2 separate regions of the Homo sapiens genome follow, and region 2 is linked to region 1. The links come from fine-mapping of genetic effects on gene expression. A gene starts in region 1. The other region holds a variant in brackets. All regions are shown on one strand. Distances are between the middles of the regions.

Region 1 (5,373 bases):
GTGGACAGTGACAGAGTCACAGGCGTAGGATGCTGAGGGGCCCGTGGGCCACCCAGAAGGCTAGATCCATGGGGCCAGGATCTGGGCTGTTTATCCGTAGAGCTCATGTTCTGTGCCCCACTTTGGTCTCAGCTTGTTTGTCCAATCCATTCCATAATCCTGGCTGATGGCCATGTTATTCCCATTTTGCAGATGTGACAACTGATGGTCAGTAACATAATCAGTGTGAATAGAAGAGGCCGATGAGCCCAGATTTGAAATTAGGCACTCAGGCTGCAGAGCCCATAGTCCTCAATGCAGAGGAGAGATGGCAGCTGTGTTGTGTGGGGTGACAGTGCCTTGACCAATATGATCTGACATTTGTATACGTCACAGAGGGTTAAATAATATAAGGAGGTGAGGTTCAATCTAATGACAGTAATAGCCATAAAAATAATTATAGTAATTAGAATTTATGCCGGGTGCAGTGGTCACACCTGTAATCCCAGCACTTTGGGAGACCAAGGCGGGTGGATCACGAGGTCAGGAGTTCAAGACCAGCCTGGCCAAGATGATGAAACCCTGTCTCTACTAAAAATACAAAAAAAAATTAGCCAGGCGTGTTGGTGGGCACCCGTAATCCCAGCTACTTGGGAGGCTGAGGCAGAGAATTGTTTGAATCGGGAGGTGGAGGTTGCAGTGAGCCGAGATCGCACTCCAGCCTGGGCGACAGAGCGAGACTCCGTCTCAAAAAAAAAAAAAAAAAAAATTTATGCAGTGTTTGTCACGTGGTAGGCACTATATATTCTTTCTGAGTATTAATTTAGCTACTCCTTAAAATCATCTGAGGTAGAACCCATCACACCTTTCTCTTATGGATGAGAAGAGTCACTGAGAGGTTAAGCAACTTTCCTGAGGTCACACAGTAAGTGAAGGGCAGAGTTGGGATTAGAATGAAGTGGGAGCCAGGCCCTGTGCACTCTACTTACCCTTGTTGTCCTTGTCTTCATGACTCTGGACCTGGAACCTCAGTTTTTGTTTGTAATGTGGACCTCCAGGGCCCGTCTCTGACATTCTGGGCACTGACATGTGAACATTTAAACATGGAGACAGGCTGGGTATGGTGGCTCATGCCCATTATGCCAGCACTTTGGGAGGCTGAGGAAGGAGAATCACTTGAGGCCAGGAGTTTGAGACCAGCCTGGACAACATAACAACACCCTGTCTTTAAAAAGTAATTTAAAGGGCCGGGCACGGCGGCTCACGCCTGTAATCCTAGCACTTTGGGAGGCGGAGTCGGCCGATTACGAGGTCAGGAGTTTGAGACCAGCCTGGCCAACATGGTGAAACCCCATCTCTACTAAAAATACAAAAATTAGCTGGGGGTGGTGGTGGGCACCTGTAATCCGAGCTACTCGGGAGGCTGAGGCAGGAGAATCATTTGAACCCGGGAGGCAGAGGTTGCAGTGAACCGAGATCGCACCATTGCACTCTAGCCTGAGCGACAGTGCAAGACTCCGTCTCAAAAAAAAAAAGTAATTTAAAAATTAACCAGGTGTGGCGGCACATGCCTGTAGTCCCAGCTACTCGGGACTGGCGGAAGGATCGCTTGAGCCCAGGAGGTCTAGGCTGCAGTGAGCTATGATCACACCACTGCACCCAGCCTAGTGACAGGGTGAGACCCCCTTTCAAAGAAAACAAAAACAAACAAAAAAATGTGGAGACATATCAGTTCACCTAATTTTTCACATTAAAATCTGTCACAGGTTCAAAACCGACAGAATTTGTCTTCTGCCAGGTAACATCTTTAGTGGTGTACTTTACCCTGGGAGGTGTAAACTATCATTATTACTACCCCTGTGTTACATAAGGGAAATGGAGACACAGCAAGGGGAAGTCTTTCCCTTGAGACCACTTGGCTGTAAAGTTGTATAGCTGGGATGTGAACCTAGCTTTAAGGGCTGTGCTTTCAACCTGGGACCCAGCGCTGCAGAAAGGGGGTGCCTGGCTCTGAGCCTCACCCCTGCCTGGACACCCTCCCCACATTTCCCTCTAGGTCATCGAGGCTGAACTTCGGTCCACCAAGCACTGGGAGCTTACTGCGGAGGGCGAGGAGATTGCCCGGGAGGGCAGCCATGAGGCCCGTGTGTTTCGAAGCATTCCCCCAGAGGGCCTGGCCCAGAGCGAGCTTATGGTAGGAGCTGCGGGGTGAATGGGGAGTGAGTGATGGGATGAAGGTGGCCCTCGTGCCCCACTCACTGCAGCCTCTCTTTTCCAGCGACTGCCCAGTGGCAAAGTGGGCTTCAGCAAGGCCATGTCCAACAAGTGGATTCGGGTGGACAAGAGTGCGGCTGACGGGCCCCGGGTGTTCCGAGTGGTGCGTTCCTGCGGGCTGGTCAGGGGGCAGGTGGACGGGCACATGGGCCCCTGGCCCTCATACCCCTCACACTCCTTATCCTGGCAGGTGGACAGCATGGAGGATGAGGTGCAGCGGCGGCTCCAGCTGGTCCGGGGGGGACAGGCTGAGAAGCTGGGGGAGAAGGAGAGGAGCGAGCTGAGGAAGAGGAAGCTGTTGGCTGAAGTGTGAGTGGGTGCCCCCTGCAGGCTCAGGCCCCCACCACCTGCGAAGCATGGTGGAGGCATGGTGGGAGGGAGACATCTTGCCCACACCAAGCACAGGTGTGGCCAGTTTCCTCCCAGCTCGCTTAATGCCATAGTTGTCAAGCCTACGTGCCTTGGGGTCTTTGCCCATGAGGACCCTTCTGCTGAGAACTGTTTTCCCTCTGATCTTCAAGATAGGCTCCTCATCAAGTCTCTCTCCTGTGTCCCCTTAAAGAGGCCACCCTGACAGCCCTCCTCTCCCCTTGAGTTCCATGAAGCCCATCGCCCCTAGTCTTCATCTTTGGTGCTTGTTCATTTCTTTCACTGTCCTTAGTGTGGTCCAAAGTTTAATGAACACACACCAGACAGGCCTCTGGAACCTAGATGGGCTAGGGGCCGTCCTCTCACAGGACAAATGTCCCCTTTGAGCAGACACAGAGTGGCAGAGAGAAGAGACTAGAGCTGGGATGCCTAACTGAAGTTCGGGCTCTGTCACTTAACTAGTTTTATGACCTTGGCCAAGTCACCTGGCCTTTGCTGGTCTCCGTTTCCTTATCTATAAAATAGCCTGGGCCAAGTGTGTGGCTCACGTGTGTAATCCCAGCTACTCAGGAGGCTGAAGTGTTAGGATCACTTGAATCCATGAATTCAAGGCCAGCCTGGGCAACATAGAGAGACCCCCATCTCAAAGAAAAAGGGGCCAGGCACGATGGCTCATGCCTGTAATCCCAGCACTTTGGGAGGCCGAGGCGGGCAAATCACCTGAGGTCAGGAGTTCGAGACCAGCCTGGCCAACATGGTGAAACCTCGTCTTTACTGAAAATACAAAACTTAGCCGGGTGTGGTGGCGGGTGCCTGTAATCCCAGCTACTCTGGAGGCTGAGGCAGGAGAATCGCTTGAATCTGGGAGGTGGAGGATGCAGTGAGCTGAGACCGTGCCATTGCACTCTAGCCTAGGCAACAAGAGCAAAACTCTGTCTCAAAAAAGGAAAACAAACAAACAAATAAAAAAAACTGCCCTCTTTCCGGGGCTTGTGGGGAGACTTTTGCAGAACAGAGCCTGGCACAGAATAAATCTGCTAGACTTTCCCTAGTATCATCACTCAGTCGTGTACTTAGCACCTTGAACAGACCCTGGCACACATTAGGTTCTCAGTAAGTGTTGAATGAATCAGTGAGTGAATACAGGGAGATACAGCATGGTCACATAGGAGGATTTCAGGTAGTGATAAATGTCAGGATGGAAATAAAGCAGAGTGACTTGGTAGGTAGCATGGGGATCCTCATCAGACGGGAGATCAAGGAAGTCCTCTAGGAGGAGATGGCAGTGGCGTCCCCTTCCTTCCCCTGGCCACAGGACTCTGAAGACCTACTGGGTGAGCAAAGGCAGTGCCTTTAGTACCAGCATCTCCAAGCAAGAGACAGAGCTGAGCCCAGAGATGATCTCCAGGTAGCAGGCAACCCCAGGGTCAGGGCAGGTGGGAGCTGGGGCAGGGGGCAGGGGCGGGCAGCCCTTACCAGGCCCTTGCATCCTCCCCCAGTGGCTCTTGGCGGGACCGGCCCTTCAAGCCCTACAACTTCTTGGCCCACGGTGTCCTCCCCGACAGCGGCCACCTTCACCCGCTGCTCAAGGTCCGCTCCCAGTTCCGACAGATCTTCCTGGAGATGGGGTGAGCACAGGGCTGGGGGCGGTGCCTGGTGCTTCTGCTGGGTACAGGCAGGGCAGTCAGGCTGTGTCTCCCACCAGGTTCACCGAGATGCCGACTGATAACTTCATTGAGAGCTCCTTCTGGAACTTTGACGCCCTCTTCCAGCCCCAGCAGCACCCAGCCCGTGACCAGCACGACACCTTCTTCCTTCGAGGTGGGTCAGCCCCTAGGGCCTCCCTGAGACATGAGAGACACCAGGCCACGGCGGAGCCTTTACAGGATGGGCATCCCATTTGATCAAATTAGGTCTAGAACTGGGCATGGTGGTGTGCACCTGTAGTCCGGCTATTTGGGAGGCCAAGGCAGGAGGATTGCATGAGCCCAGGAGTTCAAATCCAGCTCAGGCAACATAGGGAAGAATCTACCTCTAAAAAAATTAATTGAGTTAAATTAAAGTCCATCCTTGTTGGATGTGTCAAGCTCTGTTCTCATTATGCCACCTGCAGTCTTTTTTTTTTTTTTTTTTTTTTTTGAGACAGGGTCTCACTCTGTCGCCCAAGCTGGAGTGTGCAGTGGCATGATCTTGGCTCGCTGCAAACTTTGCCTCCCAGGTTCAAGCGATTCTCCTGCCTCAGCCTCCCGAGTAGCTGGGATTACAGGTGCATACCACCATGCCCAGCTAATTTTTGTATTTTTAGTAGAGATGGAGTTTTGCCATGTTGGCCAGGGTGGTCTCAAACTCCAGTCTGCCTCGGCCTCCCAAAGTGCTGGGATTACAGGCGTGAGCCACCGCACCTGGCTTTTTTTTTTTTTTTTTTTTTTTTTTGAGACAGTCTCATTCTGTCGCCCAAGCTAGAGTGCAGTGGCACGATCTCAGCTCACTGCAATTTCCACCTCCTGGGTTCAAGCGATTCTCCTGCCTCAGCCTCCTGAGTAGCTGGGATTACAGGCACCCGCCACCACGCTCGGCTAATTTTTGTGTTTTTAATAGAGATGGGGTTTGCCATGTTGGCCAGGCTGGTCTGGAACTCCTGACCTCAAGTGATACTCCCGCCTCAGCCTCCCAAAGTGCTAGGATTACAGGCGTGAGCACCACGCCTAGCCCAAAATTAATGAATTTTTGTTTTGTTTTGTTCTCACTATG
Region 2 (5,373 bases), 440 kb before region 1:
CACCTTCTTTCCTTAAACCTCATGAACCAAGATCTTCTAGCTTCAGATTTTTCTTCTGCACTTCCCCACCTCTCTCAGTCTTGCTGTGGGCTTGCTGTGGATTAGGCTTTGGCTTAAGGGAATGTTGTGGCTGGTTTGATCTTCTATCCAGACCACTAAAACTTTCTCCATGTCAGCAAGAAGCCTGTCTTACTTTCTTATCATTCATGTGTTTACTAGAGTAGCCCTTTTAATTTCCTTCAGTAATTTTTCCTTTGCATTCACAACTTGGCTAACCTCTAGCTTATGGCCTTTTGTTTGTTTGTTTGTTTTGTTTTTGAGACAGGGTCTCACTCCGTTGCCCAGGCTGGAGTGCAGTGGTGCAATCACCGCTCACTGCAGCCTTGACTTCCTGGGACCAAGTGATCCTCCCACCTCAGCCTCCTAAGTAGCTGAGACCACAGGTGTGCACCACCACACCCAGCTAATTTTTTTATTTTCTGTAGAGATAGGGTCTCCCTATTTTGCCCAAGCTAGTCTCAAACTCCTAGGCTCAAGCCATCCTCTCACCTCAGCCTCCCAAAATGCTCGGATTACAGGCATGAGCCACCATCCCTGGCCCTATCTCAGCTTTTGACACGCCTTCCTCACTGTGTTTAATCATTTCTAGCTTTTAATTTAAAGTGAGAGACGTGCAACTCTTCTTTTCACTTGAGCACTTAAAGGCCATTGTACAGTTATACACTGACCTAATTTCAATATTGTTATGTCTCGGGGAATAGGAAGGCCCAAGGAAAGCGGGAGAGATGGGGAAATGGCCAGTTGGTAGAGCAGTCAGAACACACACAATATTTATCGATCAAGTTTGCCATCTTCTATGGATGTGGTTCGTGGCACCCCCAAACAATGACTATAGTCACATCAAAGATCACTGATCACAGACCACCATAACAGATGTAATAATTATGTAAAAGTTTGAAATACCGTAAGAATTACCAGAGTGTGACACAGAGACGCAAAGTGAGCACACGCTGTTGGAAAAAAAATGGCCCTGATAGACCTCCTTGACACAGGGTTGCCACAAATCTTCAATTTGTAAGAAACACAATATCTACAAATTGCAATAAAGCAAAGCACAATGAAATGAAGTCTTCCTCGGCCGGTGTGGTGGCTCACGTCCATAATCCCAGCACTTTGGGAGGCCAAGGCAAGAGGATCCCTTGAGCCCAGGAGTTGGAGGCCAGCCTGGGCAACACAGGGAGACTCCATCTCTAGAACAAAACAAAACAAAGCCTGCTTATATTTATTGGGTTTACTCTCAGTCTCCCCCACACAGAGATAGGGCCTGGCTTGTTATTAGTGCTCAGTTGATGTTTGTGAAGTGAAATACTAAGGACTTAACCACTGCCTGTTCTTTGCTGTTCATGCCCTGACAGCTTTTATGTGCCAGCACAGAAGAAAACAAGGTGCAAGAAGAGAATAGTGATCTCTAAGTCAGAATTTGAGGAACCCAAATTAGTACCAGAAAGCTGGGAGGAGAAGAGAAAAATAAAGTAAATCAAATTAAAAGTTGAATGGGCCAAGTGCAGTAGCTCATACCTATAATCCCAGCACTTTGGGAGGCTGAGGTGAGAGGATCACTTGAGGCCAGGAGTTCTAGACCAGCCTGGGCAATATAGCAAGACCCCATCTCTACAAAAAAAATTTTTTAATTTTCTGAATATGTTGTTGTACACCTGTAGTCCCAGCTGCTTAGGAGGCAGAGGTGGGAGGATCGCTTGAGCCCAGGAGGTTGAGGCTGCAGTGAGCTGTTGTTGCACCACTATACTCAAGCCTGGGTGACAGAATAAGTCCCTGTCTCCAAAAATAAAAATAAATAAATTCATTTTTTGTAAAGTTGTATGTCATGGCCCCTGCCTACTCTGGCTTCATGACTTGCTGCTTGAACCTCACCATCCAAATCCCAGTGGTGACACCATGTCATTTCTTGAATTTGCCAAGCCCTCTTTCAGTCCCAAGCTCTCTGTCATGGCCACTCTCAGCCTGGAAAGTTCTTTCCCCACTGGCCAGATTTCTCCCCCTCATCTATGGGAACTTGACTTGAAGTAGGGGGTATCCCAGGCCCTGGACTAGTTAACACGACCTGCTGTGTGCCCCTCAAAGCCATTGTCTTCCTAGCTGAGAAGGCATCACACCTGCAACAGATTCACTCATTGTGTGCATGTTTTTCTTAACCACTTCTCTTCTGCATCAGCTCCATGGGGCAGGGATAGTCTCATATGTCACTCTACCCAGCACATAGGATACGCTCAGACGCCCACTTGTGGATGGTGGAAAAGGTCAGCCCAACCTAATATGCCCATCTCTCCTC[T/C]AGGGGTAATCTTGAGAAAAAAAGTTGGGAACTTGCTTTGTGTTAGTTTAGGATGACCCAGAATAGATCCTGAAACAAGAATTTAGGGCAATCCTTGTGCAAGTAGTTCATCTGAGAGGTGACCCCAGAAGGGTTGGAGAAGGAGAGGGGAGGTGGGGCAAGGAAGGGTGAGTTGTCCTGTAGGCAACTGAGCTCCGTCCTACTGGGAGCCCACGTGGAACTCACCTCTTAAGTGATCCAGAATGAAGGGTGAGGGAGCTGCGGTATTGATCCACCAACTCCCAGCAATCTTTGGTTGAGGGCTGCTCCCTTAAAGTTCATTCCCTGGGCCTGCCCCAGATTTGGAGACAGCCCTAAGGCAAGAGGTACAGATACCAGTTGGCCACAGACTGAAGTGTTAAGACCCAAGCCCCTGGATAAAACTGAAAAATCAAGCCAGATGTGGTGGTTCCCACCTGTAATCCCAGCTACTCAGTAGGCTAAGGCAGGAGGATTGCTTGAGCCCAGGAGTTCAATGCTGTAGCGAGCTATGATTGCACCACTGCATTCCAGCCTGGGCATCAGAGCAAGACCCCATGTCTAAAATAAAAATAAACTGAAAAATCCCCAAGTTATTTGCTGTGACCAACCTTCCATTAACCACAGACCCTCTGGTATTCAGCATTTCTTGTCCATTATATGAAGTTCTGATGACAGTCTCTTTTATTGTATTGTGCCTTGACCACGCACTGTACATCACTTAGCTCTGAAATGGACATGTTCAGGAAACAGGGCCAGGTGGGACCCTGTGTTTCAACAGCAATACTTTTACAAATGAGGTCTCATGACAGGGTCTTGCTCGGAGGGTTTCTATGGAAGCCTCATCCCACCTACTGCTATCATCCTTACTAACTTGCATTTACAAAAGGGACTCTTTTTGACCAGAGGCTTGGGGTCTGTAGCTGCCTTCTAGCCAGCTGATGCTGGCTGGTCCACACAAGCAGGATCACACCCATTTTTTTGTTTTCTTATTTATTTCTGAATAGGTTAGCATACCGGTAACCTGTGTGCCTGGCATTGTGCTGACCACTTTTTGTCAACTTACTGAATCCTCACAACCCTTGGAGGTATTGATACTATTGTTATCCAGGTTATACAAAAGGGGGAAACTGAGGCACAGAGCAGGGATGTCCCTTGCCCAAGGTTACCCAACTGGAAAGTGGCAGATCTGGGATCTGAACCCATGCAGGCTGGGCTCTTAACACTGAACTACTTTCCTGCCATTTGTTAAAGAGCCACAAACCAGGCCAGGCACCATGGCTCACGCCTGTAATCCCAGCACTTTGGGAGGCCGAGGCGGGTGGATCACCTGAGGTCAGGAGTTCAAGACCAGCCTGGCCAACATGGTGAAACCCTGTCTCTACAAAAATACAAAAAAAAGTACCCGGGCATGATGGCGGGTGCGTAGTAATCCCAGCTACTCGGGAGGCTGAGGCAGGAGAATCCCTTGAACCCGGGAGGCAGAGGTTGCAGTGAGCTGAGATCACACCATTGGAGATCGCACTCCAGCCTGGGCAACAGAGTGAGACTCTGTCTCAAAAAAATAAAATAAAATAAAATAAAGAGCCACAAACCCCGAAAGGTCTGCCATTCCCCCAGGGCCCCAGGCCACCCCACAATCTATTGTCATTGTAGGTTGTGAAATATACTGAATGTCACCCCAACCTTGAGCCATGGGGAAGATTCCATTTCTCTCATTGCAACATTTGTGCAACATGAACCATCTGTTGGGGGTCTTCGTAAATCACCTTTTATCCCGTGAGGCAGGTACTGTTAAGACCATTTTACAGGTGACAAAACTGAGGCCAGTGGTGTCGAGTCACCTGCCTGTGGTCACCCAACCAATACAGGACAGCTTGGAATCCCAAGCACCCCCGCCCTGCTGTCTGACCCCCAAAACCCACCCTCTGTTCTCCATTCTGGCTTCTTTCTTTCAGCATCTTGGCGACAGTTGGGACGGAGTTTGACCTACGGACGCTGAGGGCAGTTCGAGTGCTGCGGCCGCTCAAGCTGGTGTCTGGAATCCCAAGTGCGTGAGTTTCCGACCCTGACAAGGGGTTTGCTCACGGGCCCCAGGAGCCCTCAGTTTCCCCTATGCAGAGCATCTCAGGAGGCCACATCCTGCCACCAGCCTGTGTGAGGGCAGTCTCTTCTTTGGGACTCCCTATAGGGAACCCCCTAGGAATATGACTGTAGCTCCCCATGAGCTCCTGAAAGCAAACTAGGAGCCACACCCATTTATTGAGCACCTACTGTCTATCGGGAGCCATGCTAAGCACCACGTGTGATCTCATTCAGTACTCACAGCCCTATGAAGTTGATAGGACTGATGTCTCTATTTTATGGAGGGGGAAACTGAGGCTCAGAGTGGCTGAAACATTGGAGCAGGGTTTTGTGGCTGAGAAGTGGCAGAACTAGGAGTGAGCAAGTGTGACTCCAAGCCTGGGCCGTACCACTGGTGGCAATGACCATTCCCATTTAATGAGTGCCTGCTGCGTGCAGGGCACTACAGAAGGACTTTACATGAATTACCTTATTTCATCCTCACAGTCACCCAGCGAACACCCATTTTACAGATGAGACGGTTGAGGCTTAAGGAGGTTAAATTACTCACCTGAATTCTTAGAGTGGACAGTAATGAGCTCTAAAATTCATACTCATTCCTTGCTGCTTTCTCATTCTCCACAGATACATCTAGTCCCCGTTTAAGGGTGGCTGCCATATGCAGGGTCAAGATTAAGTGTAGGTTGAGCCAAAAAAAAATGTAAAAAGCAAAAATAAAACAGGGCTGTCCTTTTTCTATCTTCTTGTCTTGGTTAATAATAATAATTTAGCCAGGCATGGTGGCTCATGCCTGTAATTCCAGCACTTTGGGAGGATCACTTGAGGCCACAAGTTCGAGACCAGCCTGGGCAACATTGTGAGGAACACCACCCCCACCCCCCCGCCAATATCTACAAATTTTTTTTTTTTTTTTAGAAATT

Direction of the effects. Alleles are on the strand shown, and positions count from the first base shown. SD is a standard deviation of normalised expression in the study named.
As copies of T replace C in region 2, the expression in lymphoblastoid cells of the gene that starts at base 2,263 in region 1 goes up (large effect, 1.2 SD a copy in GENCORD).

What was found. PIP is the estimated chance that this variant, and not a neighbour inherited with it, causes the effect.
Region 2: its variant is fine-mapped to the expression of FARSA-AS1 in lymphoblastoid cells (GENCORD, PIP 0.92).

The regions. Positions count from the first base shown.
Region 1 is chr19:12,927,412-12,932,784 of GRCh38, reverse strand. FARSA-AS1 (FARSA antisense RNA 1) reads right to left here and starts at 2,263. Exons shown (of 3, transcript NR_149078.1): 1 at 2,239-2,263. FARSA (phenylalanyl-tRNA synthetase subunit alpha) reads left to right here. Exons shown (of 13, transcript NM_004461.3): 2 at 2,036-2,173; 3 at 2,258-2,356; 4 at 2,444-2,562; 5 at 3,938-4,030; 6 at 4,122-4,250; 7 at 4,328-4,443.
Region 2 is chr19:13,370,733-13,376,105 of GRCh38, reverse strand. CACNA1A (calcium voltage-gated channel subunit alpha1 A) reads left to right here. Exons shown (of 47, transcript NM_001127222.2): 4 at 4,327-4,418. Among named protein-coding and RNA genes, the nearest start is that of CACNA1A, 130 kb to the left of the region's middle. The variant T/C (reference allele first, on the strand shown) is at 2,351.